4 linked regions of the Homo sapiens genome follow. The protein of the gene in region 1 purifies or fractionates together with the protein of each later gene. This does not show direct contact. Each region holds a gene or a part of one and is shown on either strand. Other genes may lie near its edges. The genes, in order: KCNJ2, NCAPD2, RNPEP and ROCK2.

What was found.
Region 2: the proteins of KCNJ2 (region 1) and NCAPD2 purify together in Homo sapiens (affinity purification with mass spectrometry, with the first as the bait; one large-scale study listed by BioGRID). This does not show direct contact.
Region 3: the proteins of KCNJ2 (region 1) and RNPEP purify together in Homo sapiens (affinity purification with mass spectrometry, with the first as the bait; one large-scale study listed by BioGRID). This does not show direct contact.
Region 4: the proteins of KCNJ2 (region 1) and ROCK2 purify together in Homo sapiens (affinity purification with mass spectrometry, with the first as the bait; one large-scale study listed by BioGRID). This does not show direct contact.

What each region holds. Positions count from the first base shown.
Region 1 is NC_000017.11:70,172,182-70,176,442, forward strand, and holds part of KCNJ2 (inward rectifier potassium channel 2), read left to right. Parts: intron 1-2,642; 5' UTR 2,643-2,858; coding exon 2,859-4,142; 3' UTR 4,143-4,261.
Region 2 is NC_000012.12:6,524,341-6,528,601, forward strand, and holds part of NCAPD2 (condensin complex subunit 1), read left to right. Parts: intron 1-1,242; coding exon 1,243-1,376; intron 1,377-1,727; coding exon 1,728-1,860; intron 1,861-1,946; coding exon 1,947-2,031; intron 2,032-2,107; coding exon 2,108-2,275; intron 2,276-2,550; coding exon 2,551-2,723; intron 2,724-3,436; coding exon 3,437-3,548; intron 3,549-3,627; coding exon 3,628-3,751; intron 3,752-3,832; coding exon 3,833-3,988; intron 3,989-4,261. UniProt on the Homo sapiens protein: Regulatory subunit of the condensin complex, a complex required for conversion of interphase chromatin into mitotic-like condense chromosomes.
Region 3 is NC_000001.11:201,988,537-201,992,797, forward strand, and holds part of RNPEP (aminopeptidase B), read left to right. Parts: intron 1-367; coding exon 368-508; intron 509-846; coding exon 847-995; intron 996-4,261. UniProt on the Homo sapiens protein: Exopeptidase which selectively removes arginine and/or lysine residues from the N-terminus of several peptide substrates including Arg(0)-Leu-enkephalin, Arg(0)-Met-enkephalin and Arg(-1)-Lys(0)-somatostatin-14.
Region 4 is NC_000002.12:11,337,799-11,342,059, reverse strand, and holds part of ROCK2 (rho-associated protein kinase 2), read left to right. Parts: intron 1-4,261. UniProt on the Homo sapiens protein: Protein kinase which is a key regulator of actin cytoskeleton and cell polarity.

The sequences.
Region 1 (4,261 bases):
AGGTTCTAGACTTTAGCTATGTAATCAGCTCCACAAAAAGTCTGCATACATATATGTGTGTGCACCTGCATACACACATAAATCTGTTTGGGGGCATATCTATTTAAAGTGGCAAAAGTTTTCTTTTTGCCAAAAAAAAAAAAAAAAAAAAAAAAAGCCCAAAACTCCTCTTTTTCTCTTTCCAGGAAGAAATGGTAAAATTTCTAAATGATGCTCCACATGTGGAACAAATTCTGTTATTAGCAATGGAAATAAGACAATAATAGTCTCTCAATACAGGCTACTTTCAAGATTCTAAATGTGGAAAGCTATTCATAGGAAGCTGGTATTGTGTGATTTGTGGAATTCAAACAAATGTCCTGGGGTCAAGATTTTTGGAAAGTCATAATTCAGTCTTTAGATTTCATATGGTTGTTATGTTTTAATCTGGAAGGAGTACAGAAATAAGTCAGAAGAAATTTGAGACTGTCTACTCATGGCCCCTAATGGTAACTCACATGGAAGGATTGTTTTGAATCATGAAAAGGGAATTTCTTGGTGTCAGCTTATAATACAAAGTTCTGAAGTCAATCAGAACTCAAAAATACAAAGCATTCATTGAATGAAGTTCTTCTCCTTTTTTTGAAACGTATACCTGCGTTTGGTGTTGTTGCTGTCTCTGTCTGTTTAGTAATGTGAGAAAACTAAGATGAAATAATTGCTTAAAAAATGCTGTCCATGTACAGGATCTAGAACTTCGAGGGGCAGGATTCTTGTTTCTTTGGTCCAAGTGCAAACTTCACAGGGAAGCAGACAAAACATTGAAGCAGGTGGAAGGTTAGGAAAGCACAGTAACTTCTTTTTATAAAGTAATTCAAAGGCACTTTCAAACTGAGCATCATTTAGGTGTCAAAAGCTGCCAAAATGTAACACACATTGCAATTTTCAAAGATGACTAATCTCAGGAAAAATGTGTTGGGGCACATTCTTGCATAATAACTTGGATAAAGAAGAAGTCAAAAGACAGTAACAAGGCATTTTCAAAGGCAATGCACCTTGCCTCTTCTTAAGGGAATGCACAAAAACAACATAAATGGATTGCTTTATTTGTTTGCGGCTGGCTTGGCTGATATCGGTTCTATTAACTGTTTAATCTTAATGGATTTAGAGGAGAAGGAAAAAGTGGAGTCTTCATTATCAGGCATCAACAAATTTCTGACTCTTTTCATGAGTTATTCATTGCCCCCCTTTAATATAGCAGAAGGATTTGGTTGTATGAAAAGTTGAAGATGGGCTTTATTTTTCAGTTCTAACTCTTATTAGTTTTGTTATTACACATTTGGTAAAGAAAACACCTTAGACTTTCTCTTAGCTTTTTGTTAGTTAGTCAAGGGAAATAGTTTCTTAGGAGTGAAGATGGAAAGTTGAAGTACATAGATAGTTCTTAGCTAGGGAAGACTGAGGCAATAGGAGAAAACTGAGAACTACTATTTGCACATATTAAGTAAAGGTGAGTGCCTTCTCCATAGGAACCTATACCAAATAACAGCGCTGGAAGTGAAAGTAAGCGGACTGGCATTTATGATCTGTCCTTACACAGTTGTCTCTGTCTGAGAGAACACAGCACTGGACTCACATGAAATGAGTTCCTGCCTTATCTCAATCCGCTAAAGACCTGGTCCTTTGGCACAACGGTGCTTACTTCCTAGCCTGTCATTACACATGACAGCCCCATCTCAGGAGAATTTCAGGGCTCTTATTGCTAGGCAACAGAATTGCTCTCTATCCCCCAGAGCAAACCTGCATCTTCAGAGTCTTCAAGCCAGAATTACCTGTACTAATAGAGACTTAGCAGGCATTTCTGCATAGTGGTTGCTTAAAGTGTGAGAAGTGATGAAGCAAGCCCAAACAGTATCCAGAAACTGGGATCCATTTCAGATTATTATAAGCAATAGGGGCAGTATTCACCATCGTAGGAGGTTTTGTCCACTAGTTCCCTCTATTTTCAGGATACACACTCAGTCAAGCCTACTCCAAAATCCACTTCACTATTCTATTTGTAGGTGGGAATCTGACTTTCTTCCTCTAGCATTTCGTCAGCCTATCCGGTCTGCTCAGTTATATCATTTAAACAAAATAGTCTGTCTTCCGATTTCAACCTTGCCATCAGGGACTCTAATATTCTCCCGTAATGCACATGCAACTCAGTGGATATCAATGCTGCGTCCACGTGAAGTTTTCTAAACATGTCCTTTTTCCAAAAATTTTACGACAAACCTTGGAATCAGACAGTCTTTCATCTGCTTAACAGGGATCCTAGCAAGTGGGGCAGGCAGAAGAAGAGAATAAGAGAAGGGAGAGGTAGACCTGAACAATAGAATATTCTAGATCCCTGGCCAAAAAGAAGGGAAAGGGGACCTGACCTGACATTTTGGTTGAACAACTGTCACAGACAACTCTTCTATGTTTAACGACTTTATGCTTTTAAATAAAAGTTTTACAAAGCATGCTTAGGATACAAAGAAATTTAAAACCTTATAATTTAATGTAAATTATACTTATCTTTACCTGATTATGTGTTTTTGTTAGGATATATTGTCTTAGACAGTAGAATTCTTTAAGAGTGGCTTATTTTGTAATGCACAGTCTCTCTTTTCTTGCAGGACATGTTCTCTGGATGTCAGCTGAGTCATTAAAGTAACTCTGCATGTCAGTAGACAGACCTTGGTAGAACCACAAGGCTCCCAGAGACACCCATCTCTCCTCATTTTTTTGGTGTGTGTGTCTTCACCGAACATTCAAAACTGTTTCTCCAAAGCGTTTTGCAAAAACTCAGACTGTTTTCCAAAGCAGAAGCACTGGAGTCCCCAGCAGAAGCGATGGGCAGTGTGCGAACCAACCGCTACAGCATCGTCTCTTCAGAAGAAGACGGTATGAAGTTGGCCACCATGGCAGTTGCAAATGGCTTTGGGAACGGGAAGAGTAAAGTCCACACCCGACAACAGTGCAGGAGCCGCTTTGTGAAGAAAGATGGCCACTGTAATGTTCAGTTCATCAATGTGGGTGAGAAGGGGCAACGGTACCTCGCAGACATCTTCACCACGTGTGTGGACATTCGCTGGCGGTGGATGCTGGTTATCTTCTGCCTGGCTTTCGTCCTGTCATGGCTGTTTTTTGGCTGTGTGTTTTGGTTGATAGCTCTGCTCCATGGGGACCTGGATGCATCCAAAGAGGGCAAAGCTTGTGTGTCCGAGGTCAACAGCTTCACGGCTGCCTTCCTCTTCTCCATTGAGACCCAGACAACCATAGGCTATGGTTTCAGATGTGTCACGGATGAATGCCCAATTGCTGTTTTCATGGTGGTGTTCCAGTCAATCGTGGGCTGCATCATCGATGCTTTCATCATTGGCGCAGTCATGGCCAAGATGGCAAAGCCAAAGAAGAGAAACGAGACTCTTGTCTTCAGTCACAATGCCGTGATTGCCATGAGAGACGGCAAGCTGTGTTTGATGTGGCGAGTGGGCAATCTTCGGAAAAGCCACTTGGTGGAAGCTCATGTTCGAGCACAGCTCCTCAAATCCAGAATTACTTCTGAAGGGGAGTATATCCCTCTGGATCAAATAGACATCAATGTTGGGTTTGACAGTGGAATCGATCGTATATTTCTGGTGTCCCCAATCACTATAGTCCATGAAATAGATGAAGACAGTCCTTTATATGATTTGAGTAAACAGGACATTGACAACGCAGACTTTGAAATCGTGGTCATACTGGAAGGCATGGTGGAAGCCACTGCCATGACGACACAGTGCCGTAGCTCTTATCTAGCAAATGAAATCCTGTGGGGCCACCGCTATGAGCCTGTGCTCTTTGAAGAGAAGCACTACTACAAAGTGGACTATTCCAGGTTCCACAAAACTTACGAAGTCCCCAACACTCCCCTTTGTAGTGCCAGAGACTTAGCAGAAAAGAAATATATCCTCTCAAATGCAAATTCATTTTGCTATGAAAATGAAGTTGCCCTCACAAGCAAAGAGGAAGACGACAGTGAAAATGGAGTTCCAGAAAGCACTAGTACGGACACGCCCCCTGACATAGACCTTCACAACCAGGCAAGTGTACCTCTAGAGCCCAGGCCCTTACGGCGAGAGTCGGAGATATGACTGACTGATTCCTTCTCTGGAATAGTTACTTTACAACACGGTCTGTTGGTCAGAGGCCCAAAACAGTTATACAGATGACGGTACTGGTCAAGATGGGTCAAGCAAGCGGCCACAAGGGA
Region 2 (4,261 bases), on another chromosome or scaffold:
TTCAAATTATCTGGAAAAGACCAGGCGCGATGGCTCACGTCTGTAATCCCAGCACTTTGGGAGGCCAAGGCAGCAGATTACCTGAGGTCTGAGGTCAGGAGTTCGAGACCAGCCTGGTCAACATGGCGAAACCCCACCTTTACTAAAAATACAAAAAAATTAGCCAGGTGTGGTGGTGGGCACCTGTAGTCCCAGCTACTTGGGAGGCTGAGGCAGGACAGTTGCTTGAACCCAGGAGGTGGAGGTAGCAGTGAGCCGAGATTGCGCCACTGCACTCCAGCCTGGGCGACAGAGGGAGACTCTGTCTCAAAAAAAAAAAAAAAAAAAAAAATCTGGAAAAGATAATAAAGTTGTGAATGTAGGTTGGAACTAAACTGTGGAAGTCCCTGAATGACTTCAGGAGTCTAGGACTTTAACTGTGTTAGCCAGGCACCCAGCATTTTAGTGAGACATTCTGCTTTGTAGCATTTGCATTGCGGGCACAGAGAGTGGAGGTGGCGCTGGGAAGCGTGCTCCTGCCAGCCACATTTTTCTCCTCACTGGGGAAAAGAAAAGAGCCTGGTGGTGGTGATTGGCCATGATGTCATAGGTCAGTTACCGGCAAAAGCCCTACAAGAGGCAGGGGAGAGCACCTGCAAACTGGGGTGCAACAGAAGGGACGTGGGGAAGCAGAGGCTGAGGAGACCAACCCATGGGAAGGAAGGCCCGTGGAGGCTGCTGCAGTGGGCAGTAACGAGGGGCTGGACTTGAGGATTGGAGAAATCACTGCAGAATGGGCTTAATGGAAGACAAATTTTTAAAGGAAAAATAGTGACTGATTTGTAAAAAAATTAGATGACCGAAATTTTAAGCACATATTACTGATAGAGTGTTGATACCACTGGCAAAATGAAAAGGCAAGGAAGGATGATGGCTTCCATGTTGGACATGTTGAGTTTGTGGTAACGGCAAGAAAACCTGTTAGAAATCTCCAGACTTAGAACTATGGACCCACGTGGAACTCAAAAGGTCAGTTTCGATATGTCACTTGAATAAAATAGTTTTGAAGGCATGAGAGTAGAAAAGTAGAGAATGGAAAGCCTCTCAAGACCCTGCTGTACATTTTGAACCTCCTCTTTTCTTTTTCTCTTCCTAAGTATTACTTTTGTCTACTTCAGGTTCGCAATATCATCTTCAGAAAAGCAGACCAAAGATCAAGGAATTGTTCATTTTTGGCTTGAGCCCTTTTTCTTTTCTCTTTAGCTCTGTGAGTTTGTGCAGAAGGATGAGTTGAAACCAGCAGTGACCCAGCTGCTGTGGGAGCGGGCCACCGAGAAGGTCGCCTGCTGTCCTCTGGAGCGCTGTTCCTCTGTCATGCTTCTTGGCATGATGGCACGGTGAGGCTCAAATCTAGCAGGCAATGGGGTGGGAGAGCAAAGGAAGGTTCTGAGAGGGCTCCTTTTCCTTCAGTGACATTGTCACAGTGAGGCCCAACTGAGCTCTGCTGTGAGTTATAACGCCACCTAAATGGAAAAGCAAATAGTGAGAGGACCAGCCCTCCTGCCTAGTAGTAGTGGGATTCAGTAAAGCAACAGGACCCAAGAGGCTGGCCCTGCGGCAGAGCCACGCTATAGTGCTCCACGGCTCTAGACACCACATGAGGTGCTGGTACCTACCCCTATTGGCCCTTTCTCCCCCGATGAGTCCAATCCATGACTGCCTTTAACTCTGTGGCTTCCTTCCCCTAGAGGAAAGCCAGAAATTGTGGGAAGCAATTTAGACACACTGGTGAGCATAGGGCTGGATGAGAAGTTTCCACAGGACTACAGGCTGGCCCAGCAGGTGTGCCATGCCATTGCCAACATCTCGGACAGGAGAAAGGTATGTGGGGGTGGTTCCAAACTAAGGAGAGTGGAGATTCTCGTGTCCACCCTGTACACACACCCACGTTGTCTTGCTCTCCACAGCCTTCTCTGGGCAAACGTCACCCCCCCTTCCGGCTGCCTCAGGAACACAGGTTGTTTGAGCGACTGCGGGAGACAGTCACAAAAGGTGAGCTCTCAGGGAAGGCCTTGGGCAGAATTGGGCCCTTTGTTGCAGTAAACAACTTCTCCCTCCTCCTCTGCAGGCTTTGTCCACCCAGACCCACTCTGGATCCCATTCAAAGAGGTGGCAGTGACCCTCATTTACCAACTGGCAGAGGGCCCCGAAGTGATCTGTGCCCAGATATTGCAGGGCTGTGCAAAACAGGCCCTGGAGAAGCTAGAAGAGAAGAGAACCAGTCAGGAGGACCCGAGTAAGTGGGCAGGGGTTGACCCACTGCGGCAGCCAGCTTCTGTTCTCCCTGCAGGGCCAGGAGCCACTGCCACCACCACTATCTGCAACAACCCTTAGTGTACACTGTGTCGTTTTTGTCTAAGTTGAAGTTGGGCCAGTTCCCACCCCCAACTCTTACTACTTCACTAGTTTGAATAGCACGTGAGCAAGGGGAAGATCAGTAAAAATCGGATTCAGGTTTGATGGGACTTAAAAATGTCTCTTTGCCCCACCTTCCCTCTCCCTCTCCTCCAGAGGAGTCCCCCGCAATGCTCCCCACTTTCCTGTTGATGAACCTGCTGTCCCTGGCTGGGGATGTGGCTCTGCAGCAGCTGGTCCACTTGGAGCAGGCAGTGAGTGGAGAGCTCTGCCGGCGCCGAGTTCTCCGGGAAGAACAGGAGCACAAGACCAAAGATCCCAAGGAGAAGGTGTGTGAATGTCCTCAGCACTTCCCAGATTTATTTCATACCTCAGCTCAGAACTGAGCTGATCCCCTTCCGGCAATCTCTGCTCCTCTGCTATTACATGAAGCGAAGAGTTTCTGCCTCTCTGTGGCTACTACCGTAGGAAAGGTTCGTGTGAACAATGACGAAACTGTCAGTGATCACCCAGGAAGGAAAGATTTAGGTAAATGCAGAGTGTGGAGTTAGAGACCTCAGCATAAAACAGAGGCTTTGTGTCTGAGGCAGGGTTTGTTAGAACACGCACGTACCCGCCGGCCTTTTCCATCAGCTTCCATTGCTGGCCTGGCCCCGGATGGGGCCCTGTGTTCCCTCCACTAGAGGCAATGATGTCTTGCAGACAAATAAGACACAGAGCCTTGCAGCGCTGGAGAAAAGTCTGACCTCTGTGACTTTGAACCATTGTCTGGCGTGATCCATCTGTTTACCATATATAGGAAACGATGTCTTCCATGAGGAAGAGGTGCAGAAACACGCTTTGGCAACTTAAAACAAATGGGGACCTCATTGTTCCCCTGCTTAATTCAGGAATCCTTTCTCTTTACAGACACATTTGACAATTCTCTAAATGTTTTTGTAGAATTTGCCCTTCCTCACTTTGTTCATGCAAAACAAAGTATGGGCTGGAATCAAAAATGTTGTCTCTGCTTATCCATGATCCCCAATTTCATTCCCTTTAGAATACGAGCTCTGAGACCACCATGGAGGAGGAGCTGGGGCTGGTTGGGGCAACAGCAGATGACACAGAGGCAGAACTAATCCGTGGCATCTGCGAGATGGAACTGTTGGATGGTAAGAAAAATGGCTGCACTCAGCAGTTTCTTCCCAATTAAGATAACCTGTCCCAAACCTGCAGTTACTCTTCCAACAGGCAAACAGACACTGGCTGCCTTTGTTCCACTCTTGCTTAAAGTCTGTAACAACCCAGGCCTCTATAGCAACCCAGACCTCTCTGCAGCTGCTTCACTTGCCCTTGGCAAGTTCTGCATGATCAGGTAGGCCGTGGGGTTGGTACCCCCTTCTCAAGGAAGATGGGGATGAAATGGCTTCCCTAATGATCCTCTTCTTGCTCTTAGTGCCACTTTCTGCGACTCCCAGCTTCGTCTTCTGTTCACCATGCTGGAAAAGTCTCCACTTCCCATTGTCCGGTCTAACCTCATGGTTGCCACTGGGGATCTGGCCATCCGCTTTCCCAATCTGGTGGACCCCTGGACTCCTCATCTGTATGCTCGGTAAGAGACCCCTCACAACGTGGTGGCAGTTCCCAGGAGCCCCGGAGTCTGTTGAGAGTCAGTGTGAGAATCACCAGGGCTCTTCCCCTAGGCTTTGGCATCACCGCGAACATCTGCTTGATACTTGACCTGTACAGGCCCCTGGCTAAGAGTCACCCCAGTGGGACTGACACTTCTGGTTAGAAGCTTCACCTCTTTCCCCCACTCCAGCTTTCAACTCTAGACAGCTTTCTGACTGCTTCTGGAGTGGCAGAGCATGGGATAATTGATTCC
Region 3 (4,261 bases), on another chromosome or scaffold:
GTCCAAATGCAGTTGCTTCAGTAGTTTTTTGTTTGATGAGAAACTACTACAGTGAAAAGGACACAGATAGGGTACAGATGACAAGATCAGAGGCTCGGTCCAAGGTCTCTGAGATGACCCATGGGATGCAGTGAGGAATGGACCCTTTCTGGTGGCTCTGCCCTGTGAAGTGGATGTCATACTTTGGCATGGATTCCAGGATGAACTAAATACACAGAGGAGAGAGCTTTCTAGTTCAAACCAGACTGGCTGGCGGAAAGGTTTTAAGGATTACCTAAAATTCTCTCATTCCAGCCAGCTCACTTCTCTGGCCAGACTGAGCTCGTGTGGGAGATGTCAGTTCTGAAATGTTCTTCTTTTCGCTTAGGTTTGCTGGTTGGCTCCCGAGCAGACAGCAGGAAAGAAGAAGCCCTTCGTGTACACCCAGGGCCAGGCTGTCCTAAACCGGGCCTTCTTCCCTTGCTTCGACACGCCTGCTGTTAAATACAAGTATTCAGCTCTTATTGAGGTAAGGAGACTAAGGTTAGGTGCACCTGCCCTTGGGATGAAGAAATGATTTCAGATCTATCAATCAGGTCACGTTTCAGTGGTAAATTATTATATCCATTCAGTGGTACTTCTGAAAAATTGCTTACTTTTAAATTCTTCCACCTACTGAAGTTGTATGTAGCCTTCCTCTAAATCCCATCAGTTGAGCACAGATTTAGTTTCTTGAAACCTTTGTGTTCTCCAAGATAGACTCCAGGCCATTATCATCACACACAGGTGGCCGGTCATGCTCTTATTCAAACTAATCAAAAGGAAACTCTCTCCAGGTAAAATCTCCTAAGCTTTCTCTGTTGTCAGGTCCCAGATGGCTTCACAGCTGTGATGAGTGCTAGCACCTGGGAGAAGAGAGGTCCAAATAAGTTCTTCTTCCAGATGTGTCAGCCCATCCCCTCCTATCTGATAGCTTTGGCCATCGGAGATCTGGTTTCGGCTGAAGTTGGACCCAGGTAGGAGACAAAGACCCCACAGGCAAGGTTGGATTGGCCTCAGAGGTGAGGAGGACTCTGACCAGTGGACCTGCTGGGGGGGTTCTTGGGCAGTCTTGGATCCTCTGTCTGAGTCCAGAGCCTTTCTGCAGCTCATGCAGCATGAGCACAGCTGGAGGAAGTGCTCTTTTTCTCCCTGCCTTTCTCACTCCCTCTCTCCAGTTCTAATCCTGCTGCCTGGAATGAGATCATCATCCCTGCTAGCAGTAGCGCTGTCCTGGGCTGCCTTACAGAGGGATGTTGGAATTTAGGCTGCAGTTTTGGGAAATGGATTTTTTTTTTTTTTTGAGATGGAGTCTTGCTGTGTTGCCCAGGCTGGACTGGAGTGCAATGGTGCGATCTTGGCTCACTGCAACCTCTGCCTCCTGGGTTCAAGCGATTCTCCTGCCCCAGCCTCCCAAGTAACTGGGACTGCAGGCATGCCCCACCACGCTCGGCTAATTTTTGTATTTTTCGTAGAGACGGGGTTTCACCATGTTGGCCAGGCTGCTCTTGAACTCCTGACCTCAGGTGATTCACCCGCCTTGGCCTCCCAAAGTGCTGGGATTACAGGCATGAGCCATCATGCCCGGCCTGGGAAATGGATCTTTATTAATATCTTTAAGTTCTAAATGCCCTTCTAGCAGCTATATCCACTTTCCTATCTTTGTACCAAATCTTCCCCATTTTCTTTTGCACGTAGTTCCTGGAAATAACAACTTTGGTATCATTTCCCTCGAAGAGGGAAGTGGACTCTCCTTCCTATCTGCAGCAGATGCATGAGTCTAAGCCTACGGTGAGAGCAATGCCTCCGTGAAGTTACATGGATCTTGTGAAGATAAAAAGGGATTTTGTAAGGTTTCCTGATAAAAGAGGTTTGACCAGGAGTATAGGTTTTTCCTGGCTCTCATATTACCTCCACCATAGCTTAGTCCCAATGTGGGAGCATCACAGGCTGGACGGTGAAGCCGTGACCTTTTCCTGGCACTGTTGCTGTTCTTTATCTCTGGCCCTGCTCCCAGTTCCTAGAGGCAGTGGTGTCCTTGACAACATTAGTTACGAGCCTCAGACTTCATAACTGGGCTCAGTGGCACTGCTGGTATCATGAGTCTTAGTTTCTGGTTATCAGTTGGAATAATAAATGGGATTCCATTGGCATCTGCTCCCAGCGCACACATTCAAAACAATACCAGTCTGGAAAGACAAAGTGCCCTCCTCTTACGAAGGGCTGTCTTCCTAATAGGCAGGGCGGGAAATAACCAAAAGGATGTCATCTTTGCAATAGACAAGCAAGTAGATAAGTAAAGGAACGTCGTTTCCAAGAATACCCTTACTAAGGTTCTACTTGTAAGAGTATGAACTATTAATGGGAAATGAGAGAACAATAGATTCTAAAGATACTGAGTGATAATGATTTCTTTTTATACTGCCTGTAATAAAATGACAACATGGTATATCGAACTAGGTGACAGAATCCACTTAACTGGTGGTAATGCCTTATTCCTTCCGTGATTAAATGGACAGTTCTTGCCTCCTGGGTCACATCGTAGGGTCTTGTGGGGGGTTATTTATTTATTATTTTTGAGATGGCGTCTTGCTCTGTTGCCCAGGCTGGAGTGCAGTGGCGCGATCTTGGCTCACCACAACCTCCGCCTCCTGGGTTCAAGTGATTCTCCTGCCTCAGCCTCCCAAGTAGCTGGGACTACAGGTGTGTGCCACCATTTCTGGCTAATTTTCATATTTTTAATAGAGACAGGGTTTCACTATGTTGGCCAGGCTAGTCTTGAACTCCTGACCTCGTGATCCATCCACCTCGGCCTCCCAAAGTGCTCGATTACAGGCATGAGCCACCACGCCGGGCCGTGGGGGTTTATTAAATCGGAGGGTCTTCTGGCAAGGTATGCCACCTATCCCAGTCCCTGTTACTGCAAGAGGAAAATCCTGGGCAGAGGGGAATTATGGGTATATCCCAGTAGGCCCTTTTATGTATAATCTCTTCTAATCCTTACACAGACTCCATGAGGATGATACTTTCTACATTTTAAAAATAAGCAAACCAAGGCTGTGGTGAGTGGCTTGTGCAGGACCACTAGTTGGCAAAACTGGAATTAAAATTCAGGTATTTCCATTGCAAATCCAGTGCTCTTTGCAATATACTACAGGTAGTGAGATTGCAGCTTGACTGAGAGCATCCTGATTTATTTTGACAGAAATGTGTGTCCTGGTGGAGGTATCTTGGATGACTGTCTTAAACCTTCTAGTTGTAACAAGCTGAAGTCCACTGGGCTGAAGGACTGTGGTAATTTTGACATCCAAGGTGGTGGTAGAACAATTCACAAAGTAATTCCTTGAAGATACTGACTGCCGTCCCATGATCTTTTTCTGTCTGGTTTCCTGTCACATCATCTTTGGCGACTTTTCTCTCCTAACACCCAGGGTTGAGGGTGGCTGCAGGGTTTCTTGTGCCTTTCTCCCTCCCTCCCTCCCTCCCTCTTTCTTTCTTTTCTTGCCTCGCTCTCTTGCCCAGGCTGGAATGCAGTGGCACAATAACAGCCCATTGAACCTCAAGCTACCAGGCTCAAGCAGTCCTCCCACTTCAGTCTCCAGAGTAGCTGGGACCACAGCTACTCTGTCACCATGCCCAGTTAATTTTATTTATTTTCTGCAGGAGCAAGGTCTTGCTATGTTGTCCAGGCTGATCTTGAACTCCTGGGCTCAAGAGATCCTCCCACCTCGGCCTCCCAAAGTGTTGGGATTGCAGGCATGAGCCACAACACCAACCTTCAGGGTTTCTTGACCTCTACTCAGGGAGCCTTCTCCACTCTGTCAGCCACCCATATTCACACCCATGCTCTGGAGTCTAGAGCCTAGACATCGTCATTGTCATGAACTGTACCATATCTGAACTTTTAAGGCCCTTGAGCCCCTTGTCCTCATTCATCCTGACTCTGCTAACCTTCCAGCTCTCTGACGGCCTCTCTCCCACTATATTCCACCATGTCTCCTCCTTGAGCTCATGGCAGCCTCCCTTCCGGCAAGCCACTCATTTCTCCTGGGCAGTCAAGACCCTCCTGACTGGGCTTCCCTCCCTGGCCCAAGTGTGTGGTTGGTTACCTCTTACCAACACCCCAAAGCCCCTTGCCCACTTCCCGCTGCTATAATGTCCCAGTCCCTTGTTATACAATTCCTTTTCTCTACTTCTATAAGTGGGTATTTGGGAGATGTAGAAAATAGTGAAACTACACAGT
Region 4 (4,261 bases), on another chromosome or scaffold:
TAAATTACGCGTATTTTATTTATGAACTACTAGAATGGATTTTTTATTGTGGTAGCGTATACAGAATTTACCATTTTTAACCATTTTTAAGTGTACAGGTTAGTGGCAGGCATTAAATACATTCACATTGTTGTGCAGCCATCACCACTATCCGTCTCTGGAATCTTTTCATTTTTCCAAACTGAAACTGTAAATTAATGTTTAAAAGAATGTTATAAAAATTATATTTCCTGAAATACTGACGAAATAATGGCTGGTATCACTTTAAAGATCTGAAACCTTAGCATTTAGGTTGCATTTCACTATTGGTCATTGTTTTACTGCCTATGACATTTATTTTTTGGTTTTGCCATGGGAAATACATATTTTGTCTTTAACAGAAAATTTAAAGGAATATAATTTAAAGCAAACACAGCTGCGACACTACATTCAGGAGCTCAGAAAGTACCATTAAAAATAGTATATACCTAAGATGACAAAAGAAGATGAAGTACACCAGAAATGATTGTATGATGCTTTCAGTGGGCTAGGCCTAGAAGGTAAAACTCTGTAGGAAACAAAGTTTTATGAGATAACGTGTAAAGTGCTTAGCCTAGTGCTTGGTACATCACAGTGCTCATTAAATTTAGTTCACTTCTCCTGTGCACACTTAGCATGTTATTAGTTAACTGCTTTAAATTTTCTTTTCAAAGGAAAATGGTTTTATTTGCAACTATTTCTTGCTACATAATTTTGAGTGAGTAGCATTATCATTTGAATTTGTCATCAGAAAAGTGCTAGCAATCATTAGGCATAGGTAGAGCTGGATTCCAAGACTAAATCAGTGTAAAGATGACATCTTGTTTCTCTGCAAAGGCTCATGGCTTTATGTGGGTCCTTAAATTAATCTGAGAAGAGTATATCTCTTTTATGGTTGCAGATTGTGAGCCGCTTAGTATTACTTAGAGTTTTGCTTCTCTACTGCCTCTTTTTTTTTTTGGAGGCGAGTCTTCAGTAATATGCTTTTGTAGTGTTTGAAACCTTTGGGTAAATACCTATGCTTTGTTGTCAAGACCAGCTTCTCATACTGCTTACCTATTATGGTAAAAAGAACTGTGTTTCAGGCTTTGCTGAAGAGATATTTTTCTAAAGGTCTGTGCTTTTTGAGTGTTGATTTATTTTACTCTTTCAAAGAGTAAACAGTCACAATAACCTGTAGGACTCACGCTTGGGTAAACTCTTACTTAAGACTTGTGTGGATGGGCAAAGGTGATTAAAACTTTGTTTACAATTTTCAGTGGCATAAAACATAAAATAATTTGATTGATTTCATTATACTTGTAAACTATCTGACAATATTATCTCAGTGCTTAGACTCTTTCAGCATGCTGCTGGTTATTTGCCTAGTTAAAATAAAATTGTATGTGTATTTTTCCCATCATGTAATAAGTAAGAACATTATAAAGATACAATAAAAATGAAATAGAATAAAAATTAAAAATCATTTTATACATTTTTTTCTTTATGAAGAGTTTGGCATTTATAGTGTAAAATTTGTGACTAGTTTACTTTAAAACTTTCATGTTGATAGGAGATATTTAAAGAAAATGAGTTAGCTAGGGAGGTTTTAAAAAAAAGGTGATGTGTGGAACTTACTGTTGATGTGAAGCAAGTGCAGGTCCGCAATCCCTTATCCACAATTTTGATATATAAAAAACCCAGTTTTTGGTAAAATGTATTTGATGATAACATCTGACCTAATCTCACATTAGAATACTTGTGGTCTAGTCATTCCTCTTGATGTAAATAATAATGCCTTTTGCTGGAGGAATATGAATGTATTTGATTTCAGGGTGTTGCCCAGATTTTCAAGAGCATTTTTGGGAGTACACAGTATATGTACTGTGTACCTTTCTAAAATCCAAGAAATTCTGAGTTCGGAAACATTTTGGTCCCAGGGTAAGGCCAATGTAGACTAAGTAAGGAAATACGGACTTACATACACTTCAGTAGCTGTAAATAAATAGTGGATAATTATCTTGAAACCTAACTTTTTTGTTTTTTATTTCCCAAGTCTTGATCAGATAGCCCTCTTTTTCCCATTTTGAATTCTAAAAATATAGTATGCAAATATAAGTTACGAAGCGTAAAAACATATTCATGAAATCACCACACAAGTTAATAAGTGGAACACTAGCCTGTAGAAGTTACCTGTGTGCCGTCGCCGCTGCTGGATTCAGTCTTCCTGCATCCTCTCTCATCTGCTACCCTGAACATTTTATTGTTCCTTTGCTTCATTTCATAGATTACTACATTTGTGTGTATCTCTAAACAATATTGTTTAGTTTTACTTGTTTTTTTAACTTTATAAAATGTCAGCATTTTTATGTATTCTTTTATGACTTGCTTTATTTACTGAAAATGGTGTTTCTAAGATTCACTAACATTGTGGGTTATTCATATTCTCTGCTATGATAATCAGTATAGCTCCGATCTACTTAATGGATATTTACAGTTTTCTTTCTTTCTTTTTTTTTTGTTTTTTTTTTTCTGTTATGGAAAGTGTTGCTAGGAGCATTTCTGGAGCTCACGTGAATAATTCCTGTAGATTAGGGTATATATCTGGGAGTGGAATTGCTGGATTTTAAGATATACTATGTTCAGTCAACTTAATATAATGGATAGAGTTGAAAATTTTCCCCATGATGTTATTATAGAAAATTTCGAAGTATAGTAAGGGTGAAAAAATCGACAGTGAACATCCATATATTTACCGCATAATTAATATTTTGCTGTATTTGCTGTATTTTCTTTATCTGTCCATTCCTTTATCCATCTATCAATACATCTTTTATTTTTGGTTCACTTAAAGTAAATTGGAGATATTAGTATACTTCACCTTCAAACACTTCAGTATGTATTTAATTAAGAAGAGTTCAATATTTGTTTAGATTTTTTAAAGATTAAATTTGCATGCAATGAAATGCACAGATCTGAAGTGTACCGCTGGTGAGTTTTGACAAATGCACACACCTATTTAATGCAAATTCTTGTAAAAATACAGACCATTATTACCAACTCAGAAATCTCCTTCACACCTTTTCAGCTAATTTCACACACCATTTTCTTCTATTAGAGGCAGTCATTCTTCTGATTTTTTTTTTTTTTTGCAGTAAAGATTACTTTGACTTCTTCTATACTTCATAAAAATGGAATCATATAGTATATACTTTTCTGTGTCTGGCTTCTTTAATTTAGCATTGTTTCTGAGAGTTATCTGTGTTATTGTGTGTGTCAGCAGTTTATTCCTTTTTCTCATTGTTGAATTGTCTTCTGTTATATGTATAAACTGCAGTTTGCTTGGATATCTCGTGTTGATGCATACCTGGACTAGTTTTCAGTTTTTTGTTTTCAGAATGTACACTGGTCCCTTGGTGTTCTCCGGGGATTGGTTCCAGGATACTTGCCTTATAGTCTGCCTACGTACCAAAATCCGACGACGCACAGTCCTTTTTATAAAATGGCATTAGTATTTGCATGTAATCTGTGCATATCCTCCATATACTTTAAGTCATCTCTAGATTACTTACAATGCCTAATACGATACTGTATTGTTTTAGTTTGTATTTTTTAATTTTTATTTTTTTTCCAAATTATTTTTGATCCATGGTTGGATTCATGGATACAGAGTGCTGAGTGTATTATATATTTTGGCTTGATTTTTTTAAAATATGGAGACAAGATCTTGCTCTCTTGCTCAGGCTGGGATGCAGTGGTGTAGTCATAGCGCACTATAACCTTCAACTCCTGGTCTCAATGATCCTTCCAACTTAGCCCCTCTAGTAGGGACTACAGGCCTGTGCCACTGTAATTGGCTAATTTTTATTTTATTTTATTTTTGCAGAAATGGGGTCTTGCTGTGTTGTCCAGGCTGGTCTCAAACTCCTGGCCTCAAGTGATCCTCCAGCCTCAGCCCCTGAAAACGTTGGATTAGAGGCCTGAGCCACTGCACCCAGCCTACTTTGGCTCTTAATACAGTTGTTATGAAAGTTTTCATTTCTTTTGGGTAAATTAAATACCTTGTAGTGGAATTGCTAACTCATAGGGCAGATATGTGTTTACTTTTTAAGAAACTGATGGCCAGGCATGGTGGCTCATGCCTGTAATCTCAGCACTTTGGGAGGCTGAGGTGGGTGGATCATTTGAGGTCAGGAGTTCGAGACCAGCCTGATCAACATGGTGAAACCCCATCTCTACTAAAAATTAAAAGAAAAAAAAAATT